Homo sapiens: one gene and its partner. The protein of the gene in region 1 interacts with the protein of each later gene in a biochemical or structural test. Each region holds a gene or a part of one and is shown on either strand. Other genes may lie near its edges.

Region 1 (3,825 bases):
AATAACAGTATTGTAATTCATTGAGTTAACTAGTAAATTGTGTGCTTTTGAAAAAACATGAAAAATGTAAATTGACAGCATACTTCATTTGGAAAAAAGTAAAAGATCCGAGGAACTAGTATGTCACTTATTTATTTTTATTTTATTTTATTTTTTACTTTTTGAGACAGGGTCTTGCTCTGTCACCCAGGCTGGAGTGCAGTGGCATGGTCACAGCTCACTGCAGCCTTGACTTCCTGGGCTCAGGTGATTCTCCCACCTCAGCCTTCCAAGTAGCTGGGACTACAGGCATGCACCACATTGCCTGGCTAATTTTTTGTGGAGATGGGGTTTCGCCATGTTGTCCAGGCTGTTCTTGAACTCCTGGGCTCAGGCAATTTGCCTGCCTCATTCTCCCAAAGTGCTGGGATTATAGGCGTGAGCCACTGCGCCCAGCCTTACTTATTTTTAAATCAGATTTTTTAATCAACTAAAACAGCTATGAGTTAAGTACCTGCCCTGCAAAAATTTTTAGAAAAAGTTTTAGGATTATGAAATTAAGAATTATTTTCCTTAACTGGAACAGTTCTAAAATTTATCTGATACTTCTCTAACAAGTGAGTGATCTCATGTAACCCCAGTTTGTATCTTAAAGGCTGCAGCATAGAATTGAGCTGTATAACAGTGTTAGAACTGTCAAGTGATAATCACAGAACAGTTTGTATCGGTTTTATAATTCTCATGTCTTGATCAGATCTGAAGGAAATAGGCATACCCTCCAACATTCTAAAAATTATTTATTTTTATTAGGATTTGTTTATTAAAGTTCCACGAGCTGCTTTATGGTCAGTTGGGCTGAGTAGTAGATATCTTAAAGACATGCAGTGAAAGTGAACCCTGTCATATCATGGTGCCTCTTTCAAGGTTCCTCTGTAAGTTCCTCATCTTGCAGAATTATTTCAATACCAAGGTATGGTTGAACCAGCTGTCCAGCCTTAACTCTATTTAGTGCCCCATTACTAATGTTCTTTTAACTGGTTTGTATGTGTTTTAACTGTCCAGTGTTTGGATTTTACCTCTTGATAGCTCCATTTGTCCCTGGTGCTGCTTTTAAGGATGTAGGGCCATGTGATCAGGTATCAAGTTGAGTAGGTACGCAGTTGGCCTGGTGATGTATCTGTGCCTGTTTTATCTTCTCCCAGGAAGAGCTGCTTTGGTATAGTTGTTTACTTGGATTCATACAAAGAACAGGGCAGCAATCTTGGAAAGCTTTCTGAAGCTTATAAGAACCTGAAGGGGTTTGGAGGGGGAACAGTAACAAAGGCTGCCTTTATGTCTTTGGTCACAAAGCACATAGATGTATGTTCTGTAAAGACTAAAGTGATTGTTATACCAGGGCTTCCTGACCTTCGGGAGAGACTCAAAAAAGCAGAGAGGAGCACAAAGTGAAGTTAATTTGGTTGGCTTGCTTTATCTGGTTTCTCATTTTCTTTCAATTTAAACCTGAACATAACACCCTTCTCCGATACCTATCCAGCAGACTCCTGGTTGGGAAGCCCTGTATTAAATTTTGAGAATGTACACAGTTTTCTTTTGTACAGTGCTTTACAACTGCTAAAAGTTAACTTGTTTAAAGCAAAACAAGACCTTGAAAGGTCAATCATATTAAAGCTGGTTTGATTATTAATAGTTATCTTTTAGGAAGAAGCTTTTTTCCCTATGTAAGATGTCATACTGCAGATTTAAAATATAGACTATCAATAAAATGCATGAAGTGATCATTTGTGCTTGATCATCTCTCCTTGGGTTTTTCTTTAAAAAGGGGAATCTGCTATAAAGGTTCTGTTGCTTCAAACCAATGTCAAATAGACTTGATTTTTAGAGTCATGGAATTACAGTGCAACCTTGATTTTTATTCCCCTCACTGCTATGAGTGTGGGCAGGTACTGGTTTATATGTTATAACTTCCGTTTTATCTGTGTTGTGTAGTTGAATGGCTTAATCGTTGAGTGGTAAAATAAAAGATTATATTCCAATACAAGAATCCTGGAAAGATTTATGTGAATGACATTTTAAGTAGGCGCATCTTTGCTGTTTCTTGTATTCTCGCCATTGCTCTGACCACTCCCTTGCTTGCCCTGTATATATACAAAAACTTGTAGGTGTGCACGTGTGCTTGTACTTCTGTCTTCCATTTCTATCTTAATCTCTTAAACATATTGCTTAAGCCACTAAGATGTCCTTGTTTCAAGTAAATCGTCACATTGTGACACCTGGTGTATTGTATTATAGTTTCATTTCCTCTGGTGCCTGCAGAGCTATCTGTCATTGGCATCATAACTCGGTTTCTCAGGATAGTTTTGATGTAGTCAGCTCTTCAACTCATGACCTTCCCAAGGTTTTAAGTTTAGTGTCATTCATGATTTTATTATTTGAAACTCAATACCACCATCAAAAAGTTAGTGCTCTAGACAATGAAGCCAAAGCACAGGCATCTTAGGTCAGTGAAAAGGATCCAGACATAAATTAGCCAGGTGTGGTGGTACACAGCTGTGGTCCCAGCTACTTGGGAGGCTGAGGTGGTAGAATCACTTGAGCCCGGGAGGTCAAGGCTGCAGTGAGCCATGATCATGCTGATGCACTCCAGCCTGGGTTACAGAGCAAAACCTTGTCTCAAAAAAACCCCCAGATACCTAGAAGAAAGGATTCGATAAATCTGGGTGGATTATAAACTGAACTCTTAATGGTCATTTTAAAAAATAAGAAAGCAAGGGTCCAGTTTCTTTGAGGTCTTTGAATTTAGACAAGATTTAACTATAAGGCCTTGCATGGATTACTAACTATAATTAAATTAGCTAAACTTTTCTGGTTGCTGTCAGGCATTGTATTAAGTATTCTATATAAATTATTTAATCATCACAGTGACTGTGAGGTGAAAGTATACCACCCATTTTATAGGTAATGCAGCTGAGATACAGATGTTTGGTAATTTGCCCAGGTCACATAGTAAGTAGCAGATTATTTGCAATCATCTTTGATGCAGTCATCTTCCTTGTGCTCTTAATCCCACTACTATATGACTTCTAATTTGTTTCTTAGTATTTATCCCAAGCCCTAGACTAGATTGCTTATGAGGTGTGATTTCTTAGGAAAAACATCAGTTTTGGCTGGTTTGCCAAGAAAAAAAAAGGCCAAATTGGTTTTTGTTTATTTTTTTGTTTGTTTGAGATGGATTCTCGCCCTGTCGCCCAGGCTGGAGTGCAATGGTGCGATCTTGGCTCACTGCAACCTCTGCCTCTGGGTTCAAACGATTCTCCTGCCTCAGCCTCCCGAGTAGCTGGGATTACAGGCGCCCGCCACCACGCCCAGCTAATTTTTCTATTTTTAGTAGAGACAGGGTTTCACCATGTTGGCCAGGCTGGTCTTGAACCCCTGATCCCATGATCTGCCCGTCTCGGCCTCCCACAGTGGTGGTATTACAGGCGTGAGCCACCACGCCCGGCCGCAAATTGTTTTTTGTTTTTTTGTTTTTTGGAGGATTAATGGTAATATACTGTAAATTCAGTAAAGCACTGGGCATTACCAGATACACCTTAGCACTATGAATAACATGAACTATCATTTTAGCAGTTTAAGTGTACCTTGTAATCAGCCCTAGGGCAAACGGTATCAAGGTGTTTTATTTCCAGAAGTCTCAAAATAGACTGGAATAAAAATTTGGTGAATTCATCAACACAGACAATGGGTCCACGTCTTGCAGCTACAGCTGCTGCAGCTACTCCTGCTGTCCGCACCGTTCCACAGTATAAATATGCTGCGGGAGTTTGCAATCCTCAGCAACATCTT
Region 2 (3,825 bases), on another chromosome or scaffold:
AGTGGTGGCATGCACCTGTAATCCCAGCTACTAGGGAGGTTGAGGCAGGAGAATCACTTGAACCCAGGGGTCAGAGGCTCCAGTGAGCCAAGATCACGCCACTGTACTCTAGCCTGAGTGACAGAGTGAGACTCCGTCTCTTTAAAAAACTGGCCTAGTGAGAATACTAAACTAAATTATAAAGCTACAATAAAAAAAACAGTATGGCACTGAACAAGAGCTATATCTGACTCTATAACTAATATAACTGAAAAGATACTACATCACTGTGGAAAGGAAGAATTGGTTAATAAATAATGACAAGATGGCTAAATAGCAATTGCAGGGGAAATAGTTTATTAAACCATTTTTTAAAAACATTAAATATAATGTACTTATTTATCAAACTTCTTGGAGAATAAGTTCTTCCAAGTATAGAATAGGAAAAACAAAACAAAAGTTGGACAGATTTTGACTCCTAAGATAACACATTTCTACATGTCCAAACAATGAACAATATTAAAAGACAAATAATTCATCATGGAAATGTTTGTAGCAAATATGACAACAGGTTAATATATTTGTAAGTCTCAGGTAGATCAATAAGAAAAACACTAAGGCTCTAACATAACTAGGACAAGGCCAAACAAGTCAATGAAAATAAATATCATTAGTAAACAGACAGGAAAATATTCTGCTTCACGAATGTTTAAATGGCACATGCCATGAAATTAGCAAAAAATGTAAAATGCAATTAGCTTATACTTATAACAGAATAGTAAAAAGGGACATCTTTATTTACTGCTGCTCTAAATAGGTCCAACTCTTGTAAGAAGCAGCCTAAAGGAAAAATTACTCATGAAACCTTAAAAATATCCACACACTTGAACTCAGTAACACTATTTTTATGGAAGCATCCTAAAAAAAAAGAATCCTTAAAAAAAAAATCAAAGTTACCTACACCAAGATGTTTACAGCAATTATTTGTAATAAAAAATTTGGAAATAAACATTCAAACAAAAAAATCTGAACGATGGTTGCTGTTGAATCTGCTTAACCAGTTATCCTAAAACCAGTCTTCATGGTTCCCATTCCAGTCCATCCTCCATACTGCTCCCAGATTGTGTCTAAACAGCAAATATATTAAAGCTTAAAATCCTGCAATGGTTCCCCCCACCTTAAAAAAAATGAACATCTTGGCAAACTACAGTAAGGTCCAAACTAGGTTGGTCCCTGTCTAGAGCCTCACCTCTTGCCACTCATACCCAATGCATTAGCCATAAAGAACACATGCAGAACTATTCGGAAGTATTTATAGCTCTCCAGCATTCATTAAATAAAATGCCAAAAAGGTCTTAATCCATACTCACACAAGGATGCTGGCTTCATGGCACTTAAAGCATAGGAACAATAAACGCCTACCAGTGGGTTAGGTCTGGTACTAGAAGAGCTTCTTAGAGTCATAGAGGACAGTTCAACTCAGGTCAGGGAAAGTTCTAGGGATAACAGTAATCTTTGAGTTGAGCCTTAAAAGATGGGCAAGTATTGCTAGGGGCGAGGGCATTCATAATTATACTGAGTCATGAATAAAACATTAAGTTCTACTAAGTATGGTCTATTTGAAAAGAGGAGGACATATTACGTCTTTAAGACTCTCACCAAAAAAGGCTCAAATAGGCCAGGCATGGTGGCTCACACCTGTAATCCCAGCACTTTGGAAGGCTGAGGCAGGAGGATCTCCTGAGCACAGAAGTTCAAGACCAGCCTGGGCAACCTGGAGAAACCCCATCTGTACTGGAAAAAAAAAAAAAAGGTAAAAAAATCAGCCAGTCACAGTGGCATGGACCTGTAGTCCCAGCCAGTTGGGAAGCCAAGGTGGGAAAATCACCTGAGCCGGGAGGTCAAGGCTGCAGTAAGCCGGGATTGCTCACTGCACGCTGTTGCCACTGCACTCCAGTGTGGGCAACAGAATGAGATTCTGCCTCAAAAAAAAAAAAGGCTAAAATAAAAATCTTGTATGCCTAAGCATGACCCTTCATTTATCTTTAAAACTGAGTTATGTTAAATGAGATGTTAGTATGTTGTGATAGTAATAGCTCAACCAACAAGAAAAAAGTAAAAGTGATGACTAAAATACACAGACTTTATTACGAATACCAAACTACAAAAAGGACCTTGGCATGTTCTACTGCCTGCCTGAAGAGGGTCAGACTAGAAGACAGAATTTAAAAGAAAAGGAAGGAGCTCAACTACACTGGCTTCCTCCTCAGAAACCAAGAAAATAAAACAAATTGGGGACATTCAAATCACTAACACCTCTAGTATATAAAGTCATTATGGGCCGGGTGCCGTGGCTCATGCCTGTAATCCCAGCACACTGGAAGGCTAAGGCGGGCGGATCACCTGAGGTCCAGAGTTTGAGACCAGCCTGGCCAACGTGGCAAAACCCGTCTCTACTAAAAATACAAAAAAAACCAGCCAGGCGTGGTGGTGGGCGCCTGTAATCCCACCTACTCGGGAGGCTGAGGCAGGAGAATCACTTGAACCCGGGAGGTGGAGGTTGCAGTGGGCCGAGATCAAGCCCTTCAACTCCAGTCAAGAGTGAAACTCCAACTCAAAAAATAAATAAATAAAGTCATTATGATGTATAGGCATACTTAAAAACCTGTGAAATAGAATTAAGCTACAATTTTTAAAGCCTTGAATCGATAAAATATGTAGTGAAACAAGATTAAGACGCTAGCATATCTAAAGGGAAATTTTTAAAGTTAAACTTCCTTACATTATAGACAAGGTTAACCTCCTTATTGCCAAGGGCTTTGAAATTAATAACATGAGAAGCAGCATACAAAAACATTAAATGTATAAAAAGGTCTGAAACAAATGTTCTGGAGGAGTAATCTTATTCTGCTTCTCCATACCTAAGAATTTAAAATATTAGAAATTACACTAAACTGCTTTTTCCAGCCTTTGGTTTTCAGAAACAATAATGGTATAAAAAATTATCCCAAAGTTTTTACTGTAAAGAATATTTTTCTATCCAAACCATTGAAAGAAAAGCCTGTATCAGATATAAGTATAATGATATAGACATTATACATTTTGTAATCAATGTTATAGAAACAGTAGTTGAAGTTGATAGTGTTACCATACAGCCCATTTCAATGATCATATGTTAATGTGTCATAAAGAACAGAAGTAGCTTGATGGATGAAATCAGATTCTAACCCCCAACTGCCTGAGGAATCTAAAATTTGGGATCAAATTATTAAATTAGCCCCACCTTCTTAGCATTGACAAATACCAAACAGTTCACTGATTGTGGTTTTAAGAATAATATGTGGAAAGGTTTAATATCAATTGTGGGCAGAGATCTCATGGCTTAAATATTTCCTCTTCTTCAGAGAGAGTGTGTATGAGTGTGTGAGTGTGTGTGTGTGAGTGTGTGCATCACCATGTAAGAAATGTTTATACCTTTCAGCAAAGGGGCAATTCCACAATAAAGTTATTATCAAGTAACTAAAGTTTATACAGCATCTTGAAATCAAAGGTACTCTATAAATTTAAAATACTAATATGGTATTAACTTAAAGCAAAGAACAATAATTTTAAAACACCTTATAGCCCAAGTGTATTGTAAACCAAATATAAATTCACTGTGGGATCTGTCTTTTTTTAAGTGATTTTTTTTCCTCTATTAGGCAACCCAGATCTAAATGAACTGTTAAACACTTAGTCTAAAGGTATGCCAAACATTTCTTAAGGTCTTCACAAAGAATCAACTTTTTTTTTTTTTTTTTTTTTAAACAAAATGAGGCCTAGGTTAAATATTTTATTTGGCTTCTC

Evidence for each region.
Region 2: the proteins of RLIM (region 1) and SMURF2 form a complex in vitro, tested with the Homo sapiens proteins (one study listed by BioGRID).

Annotation. Positions count from the first base shown.
Region 1 is NC_000023.11:74,583,424-74,587,248, reverse strand, and holds part of RLIM (E3 ubiquitin-protein ligase RLIM), read left to right. Parts: 3' UTR 1-3,825. UniProt on the Homo sapiens protein: E3 ubiquitin-protein ligase.
Region 2 is NC_000017.11:64,655,755-64,659,579, forward strand, and holds part of SMURF2 (E3 ubiquitin-protein ligase SMURF2), read right to left. Parts: intron 1-3,825. UniProt on the Homo sapiens protein: E3 ubiquitin-protein ligase which accepts ubiquitin from an E2 ubiquitin-conjugating enzyme in the form of a thioester and then directly transfers the ubiquitin to targeted substrates.